Linked DNA regions of Homo sapiens: region 1 is reported to be linked to region 2. Evidence: microRNA targets listed by miRTarBase, many of them from high-throughput screens and not tested one by one. Region 2 holds a microRNA gene; the other region holds the end of a gene's coding sequence.

Region 1 (4,388 bases), not on the chromosome of region 2:
CGTTCGCCATGACCTCCCAAAGTGCTGGGATTACAGGCATGAGCCCGTCCCGTCCCTGGCTGTCTCTCCATCTTTCCATCTTTTTTTTTTTTTTTTTTTTTTTTGGAGATGGAGTCTCACTCTGTCACCCAGGCTGGAGTGCAGTGGCACGATCTTGGCTCACTGCAAGCTCCGCCTCCTGGGTTCACATCATTCTCCTGTCTCAGCCTCCCAAATAGCTGGGACTACAGGCACTTGCCACCACGCCTGGCTGATTTTTTGTATTTTTAGTAGAGACGGGGTTTCACCGTGTTAGCCAGGGTGGTCTCGATCTCCTGACCTCGTGATCCGCCCACCTTGGCCTCTGGGCGAGGATTACAGGCGTGATCCACCTCACCTGGCCTCTCCATCTTTTTAACTGCAGTGTCAGCGGTGTTCCTTGTCTTCTCTGCAGATGCAGGCAGCAGAATATAGTGGTTATAGGAACACAGGTGGAAACCCTGTCCAAAGCAAGGGCTATCGGGTATCACCTCTGACCATCCTTCCCATTCATCCTCCAGGTCAAGTCTGGCACCATCTTTGACAACTTCCTCATCACCAACGATGAGGCATACGCTGAGGAGTTTGGCAACGAGACGTGGGGCGTAACAAAGGTGAGGCCTGGTCCTGGTCCTGATGTCGGGGGCGGGCAGGGCTGGCAGGGGGCAAGGCCCTGAGGTGTGTGCTCTGCCTGCAGGCAGCAGAGAAACAAATGAAGGACAAACAGGACGAGGAGCAGAGGCTTAAGGAGGAGGAAGAAGACAAGAAACGCAAAGAGGAGGAGGAGGCAGAGGACAAGGAGGATGATGAGGACAAAGATGAGGATGAGGAGGATGAGGAGGACAAGGAGGAAGATGAGGAGGAAGATGTCCCCGGCCAGGCCAAGGACGAGCTGTAGAGAGGCCTGCCTCCAGGGCTGGACTGAGGCCTGAGCGCTCCTGCCGCAGAGCTGGCCGCGCCAAATAATGTCTCTGTGAGACTCGAGAACTTTCATTTTTTTCCAGGCTGGTTCGGATTTGGGGTGGATTTTGGTTTTGTTCCCCTCCTCCACTCTCCCCCACCCCCTCCCCGCCCTTTTTTTTTTTTTTTTTTAAACTGGTATTTTATCTTTGATTCTCCTTCAGCCCTCACCCCTGGTTCTCATCTTTCTTGATCAACATCTTTTCTTGCCTCTGTCCCCTTCTCTCATCTCTTAGCTCCCCTCCAACCTGGGGGGCAGTGGTGTGGAGAAGCCACAGGCCTGAGATTTCATCTGCTCTCCTTCCTGGAGCCCAGAGGAGGGCAGCAGAAGGGGGTGGTGTCTCCAACCCCCCAGCACTGAGGAAGAACGGGGCTCTTCTCATTTCACCCCTCCCTTTCTCCCCTGCCCCCAGGACTGGGCCACTTCTGGGTGGGGCAGTGGGTCCCAGATTGGCTCACACTGAGAATGTAAGAACTACAAACAAAATTTCTATTAAATTAAATTTTGTGTCTCCCTCCTGTGTCTCCTTCTGGGGAAAGACAGACTTAAGGAAACCCAGCAGTGGTCTTTTTGGGGGGGGGGGGGGTTTCCAGTATATCTCCTTTTTCAGCTATTGCTAGAGAGGTTGCTGAGTGTTCCACAAGATTCCAGGGACCCTTATTTACCCCATAACCCTCAAAACCAACGGGGGAATGGCTGTTGCTGCTGTAAATACTCCACATACTAACTTACTGAATCCTTGAACCTAACTGGTAAGTTTTGGTTCTGCTTATTTATTTATTTTTAAGATAGACTCTCGCTCTGTTGTCCAGGCTGGCGTACAGTGGCTCAATCTGGTTCACCCTGCCCCTTAAACTGGCCTTTTTCATGCTTCTATTCCTTTGGGGTCCTGTGGCTCAGCCCAACCCCTCTGGGATGCCTCCAGGACTGGTAGATCCAAGGGAGAATTCTGTATTTAATGTAGTGAGGCTTTGAAAGTTAACATCTTTAAATACTTCTGGGGTCAGATTAGGTATAGTACAACAAAGTACTCCTGCCCGGAGACCCAAGAATGAAAATTGTAGGTTCATTCCAAAACTCCAGATCCCTAAAGAATGAATGAGGCTACAAAATGGCACCTTGCCCCCGCTTCCAACTTAAGGTTTTTTTTCTGTGCTTGGTGGCCTTTCAGGTATTTCTAGTTTTGAGTAACTTTCACTTTGACTGCTCTACAAGGGTTCCTGCCAGGATACCCAGACCAGAATAAAACTCATTTGGGGGCCGGGTACGGTGGTTCACGCCTGTAATCCCAGCACTTTGGGAGGCCGAGGCGGGTGGATCACCTGAGGTCAGGAGTTTTGAGACCAGCCTGGCCAACACGGTGAAACCCAATACAAAAAATTATCCGGGCGTGGTGGGGGGTGCCTGTAATCCCAGTTACTCGGGAGGCTGAGGCAGGAGAATTGCATGAACCCGGAAGGCGGAAGCTGCAGTGAGCCGAGATCGCGCCACTGCACTCCAGCCTGGGTGACAGAGACTGTTTGAAAGAAAAAATTCTCATTTGGAAGAGGCAAAATGAGGTTTTTACAGAAGAAATACAAATGTCTGTAACCAGTACAGGTACATAAAAACTTTGTTAAAAATTCATTTGAGCGTGAGAGTGGGGACACCAGAGTCACTTTGCAGCCCCGTGACGTCACCGATAACGGGCATGGCGTCACTCAGGAGACCACGTGTGCGGGCCGAGCAAGAAGCCCCGCCCACAGCGCGGAGTTTAGTCTGCGCGTGCCTCGCTCGAGAACGCGCTCGTGCGCATGCCCACAAAGGCCAAGGAGGGAGTGCGCAGGTCACGTGCGCCGGTGGTCAGCGCGCGCATTGCCTGCCCCGGAAGTGGTCGGCGCGCGGCGCGGCGCGCCTGGGCGCTAAGATGGCGGCGGCGTGAGTTGCATGTTGTGTGAGGATCCCGGGGCCGCCGCGTCGCTCGGGCCCCGCCATGGCCGTCACCATCACGCTCAAAACGCTGCAGCAGCAGACCTTCAAGATCCGCATGGAGCCTGACGAGACGGTGCGGGCCGGGCCGGAGCCCGGGGGCGGGAGCGACGGGTTTCGGGGGTGGGGTGGGGGCGGGGAGGCTAGAATCCCAACGGGAGGGGCAGGGAGGACGGCGCGGGTCGGCCCTGCCCAGACCCCCGACCTGCCCGACTTTCCTGGACCCCCCGATGGTCTTTGGCCCAGCCCCCAGCCGATCGGGCGGCGCTCCTGCGCCGGTCTCCGGGCGAGGCCCCACCCCCGGGGCGCTGGCCAGGCCCCGGCTCCAATGTCAGCGCTCTCGCGGGGCGCGGGAGTCACAAGCTCGGATTCCTGGGCAGGCCAAGCTCTCCAAGACTGGGCTCCACGTTCCCAGCTTTGCAGGCGTCTCCTTGGGACACTGGTGGTCGAATCTAGGAGTAATGACCAGGAGATACTGAGTAGTGACGACAACAACGATGTTAATGATAATAAACGGGTCTCAGTCTTTATAATTTTGGTGGTCCGTGTTTGTTGGCCGTTTACTTTTTATCAGTCACCGAGTGTTGTAGTGTTGTTTTACCGCTCTGCAAAACGGGCTTGTCATTGGGGACCTCTGATCATTTTACAGATGTGGAAACCTAGGGATTGAGGAACTTTGCCACAGTCACACACAAGTAATGGCAGAGCTGGGATTCAAATTCGGTTCTGCCTCGTGTGAGCGTCCACGATATAAATATTATGCTGCCTTTTTAGTCAAAAGTAGAATTAGGACCTAATTCAAACATACTGAATGTCTATTGGGTACTTGGCGCTTTTTGCATAGTGAGGGAGACATTGAAGTCCACTTTTTGTAGAAAAGGAAACACACATTTTTTGATCCGCTCAAGTGTTTGGCTTTGGGCAAGTTAACCTGCCTACCTGTCTGTGCCTCCGTTTTCTCAAATATCAAATGAACCGGTCGCCTGCTGGCTTCCGCCTGTAATCCCAGCACTTAGGGAGGCAGAGGGAAGAGGAGCCCTTGAGCCTAGGAATTCGAGATCATCCTGGCAACACAGTGAGACCCCGTTCTCTACAAAAAAAAGAAACAAAAATCAATAAATAAAATGAGACCAATTAAACGTATTTCATAGGAAACTTAAAAGGTATGACACATATACATTTACAGTAGCACTATTGGCCAGGCACGGTGGCTCATGCCTCTAATCCTGATGATTTGGGAGGCAGAGGCAGGAGGATTGCTTGAGGCCAGGAGTTTGAGACCAGCCAGTCTAACATAGGGAGACTCTTATCTACAAAAAAAAATTATTTTTAATTAGTCTGGAGTGGTGGTGTGTACCTTTAGTCCTAGCTACTCCCAAGGCTGGACAAGAGTACCAGTTGAGCCCAGGAGTTTGAGGCTGCAGTCAGCGATGATCGTGCC
Region 2 (4,388 bases):
CTAGCTTTCAGAATTTATTTTCCAAAGCTAAGTCTGCCATGACAGGTGCTAAGGTATCCCTTTGAAATTCTTGGCTTTTCTAGCTTGGGGTAGTTAGACAGCCATCATGTTTCAATTCCTAGATTGCTTTTCAGGAAGTTTCTAACAGATCTCAGTTTGCATTTCTAGGTGGTCATTTTACAAGTTCAAACTCATATTTTTCATTGCTATTCCTTATACAGAGCTAAAGTGCTATGGGGGCTTTCTAGAAAAGTGACCTTTTAAAATGGAGTCTGGATCTCATTCTTAGCAGAAGCATCAAGGGAACACCTTCATAGCATTGCAAGGTCAGTGACTTAGGTCAGCATCAAACTCCCCACTTCCCATGCCCAGGCCTAACTTGGACTCACTCCCACCTATGGGACCCTTGCTCTTTTTCAGGAACTGGAAAGGAGGTACCCCTCAGATACAGGGCCACAGGCAGATAGATTTAACCTCTAGATTCATCCTATGCCTCATGAGGCTGAGGCAGGTCCCTCCACTGGGCCTCAGTTTTCCCTAAATGTGTAACAGAGTGGGGTTTGGGCCACATGATCTCTAGGTCCTCTTCTGGCTCTGTGCTTCTATGACTTGGATTAAGAGAGGCAGATGAACACCTCAATAGAGGAAGACAGCCCAATTTTTAAAAATCAGATTGACTTTTGCCATTCAGGTCCATTACCCCCTCCCTTTCCTATAGCTGCCAGCTGTTCAAACCCTCTAAACCCTAACCTCTTTAGGCAAACCAAATCTTGCCTAGATGGCTGCAGGGTCCTCTGAGACACCTAAACCCTGCGAACCTTGACCAACCCTACCCCACCCTGCCACCTAATTGAAAGAGCCTCAGGAGCTCCACTGCCTTCAGAACCTAATTTCTCAGGACAAAGACGTGCCCTTGAGGATGTGGCCTCTCCTCACCTTGTTGGGTGCACAGATACCAGCCTCCAAATATTCGCAATTCTCTTTTTGATCCCTCTCTCTCTCTCTCTCTCTCTCTCTCTCTCTCTCTATTGTCCTAACCCATGTTCCAGGTAAGAAAAAATTCTTCTCTATCCTAATGAGGGTGTTGCAGACACTCCACCTGTGACCCAGCCCCATCCCACAACTTGTCCTCCTATCTCCTCAGCTTGCTTCCCTACCAAGGCTCCAAGCTAGACCCAGTTCATGAAGGCAGAGAGGGTAGGTATCAGGCCGAAGTTGGTGGGTTCTTGCTCAAGGTTGGTATTTCAGAACTAAAATCTGCAAGTACATTTTTCCTTTTCTTTTTCTTCTTCAGACCCCTGATCAGGAGGTGAGATTCCTTACACTTGGCCATACAACAGGATGAAATCCTGCCATTTATGGTAACATAGATGATCCTGGAGGTCATTATGCTAAGTGATATAAGCAAGGCACAGAAAGACAAATACCACATGATCTCATTCCTATGTGGAATCTAAAAAACTTGACTTCATAGAAATGGGGAGTAGAATGATGGTTACCAGAGTAACCCTTAGGGGAAGTGGGAGAGAGGTATACGAAGAGAGATTGATCAACAAAGTATAAAGTTACAGTTAGGAAAAATAAGTTCTGGTGTTCTATTACACAGTATGGTGACTATAGCTAACAATAATGCATTGTATATTTCACGATAACTAGAAGAGAGGATTTTGAATATTCTCATCACAAATAAATTATAAATATTTACAGTGATGGATATGCTAATTACCCAATTTGATCATTATACTATGTATACATGCATTGAAACATCACACTGTACCCTATAAGTATGTACAATTATTATATGTCAATCATAAATAAAACTTTTTAAAAAGAAGAAGTTAAGATTCCTAGAGGAAACTTCACCTCACCCTTTCTACCCCTACCCAAGCCAGTAGCCAGAGCACCTCACAACCAAGTTCCCAAAACCCATCTCCAGAATGACACGTGGGGCCTTATCCTCTTCAGGAAGAACAAAATGAGCCCAGGCTTCCCCCTTAGGACCGCTATAATGTGTTCAAATGTTTTCCGTCGAAGAAACTAAGCTGCACAGAGGTCGAGACTTGCCAAGGTTATACTGCCAGTTAGCAGCCAAGACCAGACTTCAAACCCAAATCATCTGACTGTGAGGGTTCTTTCTTGGCATCCAACCCAGATTAGAGGAAGAGCTTATTTCTCTGGTTGCTGTGGGGGTGTACCCCACACTCAGGCTCCCGCCGGGATTGCCACAACTGTCCCTGCCGAGTCTGGCTGCCTCCAGGGATCTAAAACCAGGGACTTTGTTACCTTTTGTCCCTTGCTGTCCTCATAAGGTACTGATTGACTGATGGAGGCATGACTGGAAGACTGGCAGAAGCAGAAAGCAAAACTATGTCGCCCCCTGCCATGCGCCTGTACCTCTGTCTAGACTTCACAGAGGAAGGAGGAAGTCATCAACCCAGGCTACTCACCACTGCCTCTCACCCTTCCTCCCTCACGTATATTCCATTCAAAGACTGTGGATTTCCCCTAGGTCGACTTGAGAATTTTCTAGAGTTCCCAGTAAGCTGCTGAGGATGAATTGGGGGTTGGTGGAAAGGTCAGAGACAGACCTGAACAGCTCTCTTCCTAAGAGGCACAGGCAATCACTGGGCCTCGCCCGCCCCAGGTTGCCTGTTCTCTTCACCACCAATAAACTAGAGGGACCACGATCTCACAGAGTCTGTGAATAAAGTCATTCGGCAAAGGTCTGGTGGGCAGTCATCCTATACCAAGTACCAAGAAGATGCAGAGAAGTCTAATGCCTCCTGAACCCGCCCATCTCCTGTTTTGGCTATTGTCTGTTCACCCCAGTGCATGGGTATTGACAATCATTTCTTAAAGGAGTCTTCCTTCATCCAGTACTGTCCATGCTTTACAATATAAAACCCAAATCACCCCTCACACCTGATCCATCTTCACACAAGTCCAAGGTCCCCAGGCACTTGAGATCACGCCACACGCCTGGAGTGACTTCTCTTGAGCAGGTTTGGAGTATGCTCTTACTGCTAACTAGCTTTGTGATTTGGGGCAAGTCTTTGACCTCATGGGCCCAAGGTTTGCTTATCTGAGGCTCCTAGAAAAGAAAGTCCAAACTCCTCAGCATGGCTGGCCAGGCCTTCCCCAAGCCAGCACCACCATCCGCTCCAGCCTGTTCTCTACTCAAAGGCCACAGTTTTTGCCTGTTTGTGTCTGACAGCACTCATTTCACTCCGAGTTACATCCAAGGGATCCGTTGCTAGGCCATCTCCCAGCTTATGTGTAAGCTCCTTGCGGGCAGAGCTCCTCTGAAGCACCTATAGAGCCCTGCACTGGGCGTGAGCAGGGCTCACTCAGCAGGGCCCACTCAGCAAGTGCTAGGTCGTCAACGACCTGTGGAATAAATAGCCAGCCCTCCCAAGCAGCTGCCTGCCTCCCTCCTCAAAAAAGTCTGTTGACTCCACAGATCCCAGAATCAGGCTTCTCAAATGTGCTGCATGGATGACCGGCAGCTGAAATACCTAGTGAGCTTGTTAAAGATTCAGGTTCCTCAGCTCCACCCCACACCTATGAAATAAGAATCTCTGGGGTGTGCTGACTCCAAGAGCCTCCCCAGGTCTGGCCCAGAGCTCCAGTGGACTCTAAAGCTAGGCCCTTCTGCAGGAAGGGGATAGACAATGTCCCATAAGCAGCCCAGGGTATAGATGGCAGGGGATTGAGGCAGGGGACAGGACTGAGATTCTGCATCTGCTAACCATCATTGCAAGTCCCTGATACTTGCCTTTCTCTAACCAAGTTATGACAGCAAAGGCACCACCTTCCTGCCCATCACCAGCAGCTAGCAGTTCTCTTATTGCTGCCTTCCTTCCCCGTCCCATCAACCCAACAGGGCTGGAACTGACTCTCATCTTCAGTCAGCCTCTCCCTCCACCTAAGGCCTCATAGCTCTTCTTCCACTGAATTTAAACAGCTTCTTCTTCCCCAAGGCAAAGAAAAAAAGGGATTCTTTTCCTCCTACTCTTTCCACTGCCCACCAGCCTGCTAGGGTGTTTTCTAAAACCAATGTGAGAAGCGTTTTCAGTCACACACTTTATATCCCACCTAACTAAACCTCTGCTGGCTGTCCAGACAGACTTTCCTCCCATCCCCTGGGGCTTCAGACCCACAGGGCCCTCACAGACCTCTCAAGTCAAGTGTCAGTGGTGTGCTGGGCACCATCACAGGACTGGAAATACAAGTGCCCAGGTGAGGACCAGCTCCAGGTGGACCACGTGGCTCTGGGGAACTCTTGCGCCCCTCTGTTGGGAATAACGTTCAAAATCCTAAGGAAATTGAACACTCAAACAAAGGATGCTTAGCAAAGCAATTTTGCTTCTGTGCAGAGGGTGCTTCTC

The links. The annotated mature microRNA hsa-miR-7154-3p reads AGGAGGACAAGUUGUGGGAU and lies in region 2 at 1,115-1,134, opposite strand. An mRNA with a match to its seed (bases 2 to 7 or 8) in the 3' UTR can be bound and repressed. Matches are read on the target gene's strand: a 7mer-m8 pairs with bases 2 to 8, a 7mer-A1 pairs with bases 2 to 7 and ends in A, and an 8mer does both.
Region 1: miRTarBase lists CALR as a target of hsa-miR-7154-3p. Seed matches in the 3' UTR shown: 7mer-A1 at 1,062-1,068.

Annotation. Positions count from the first base shown.
Region 1 is chr19:12,942,998-12,947,385 of GRCh38, forward strand. CALR (calreticulin) reads left to right here. Exons shown (of 9, transcript NM_004343.4): 8 at 540-632; 9 at 716-1,492. The coding sequence ends at 916. RAD23A (RAD23 nucleotide excision repair protein A) reads left to right here and starts at 2,865. Exons shown (of 9, transcript NM_005053.4): 1 at 2,865-3,023. The coding sequence starts at 2,952. RefSeq lists enhancers at 2,643-3,335, 2,747-2,966, 4,282-4,388 and silencers at 3,027-3,106, 3,117-3,306, 3,327-3,386, 3,358-3,652.
Region 2 is chr11:45,690,590-45,694,977 of GRCh38, forward strand. It overlaps MIR7154 (microRNA 7154), which reads right to left and starts at 1,187; the gene lies at 1,115-1,187.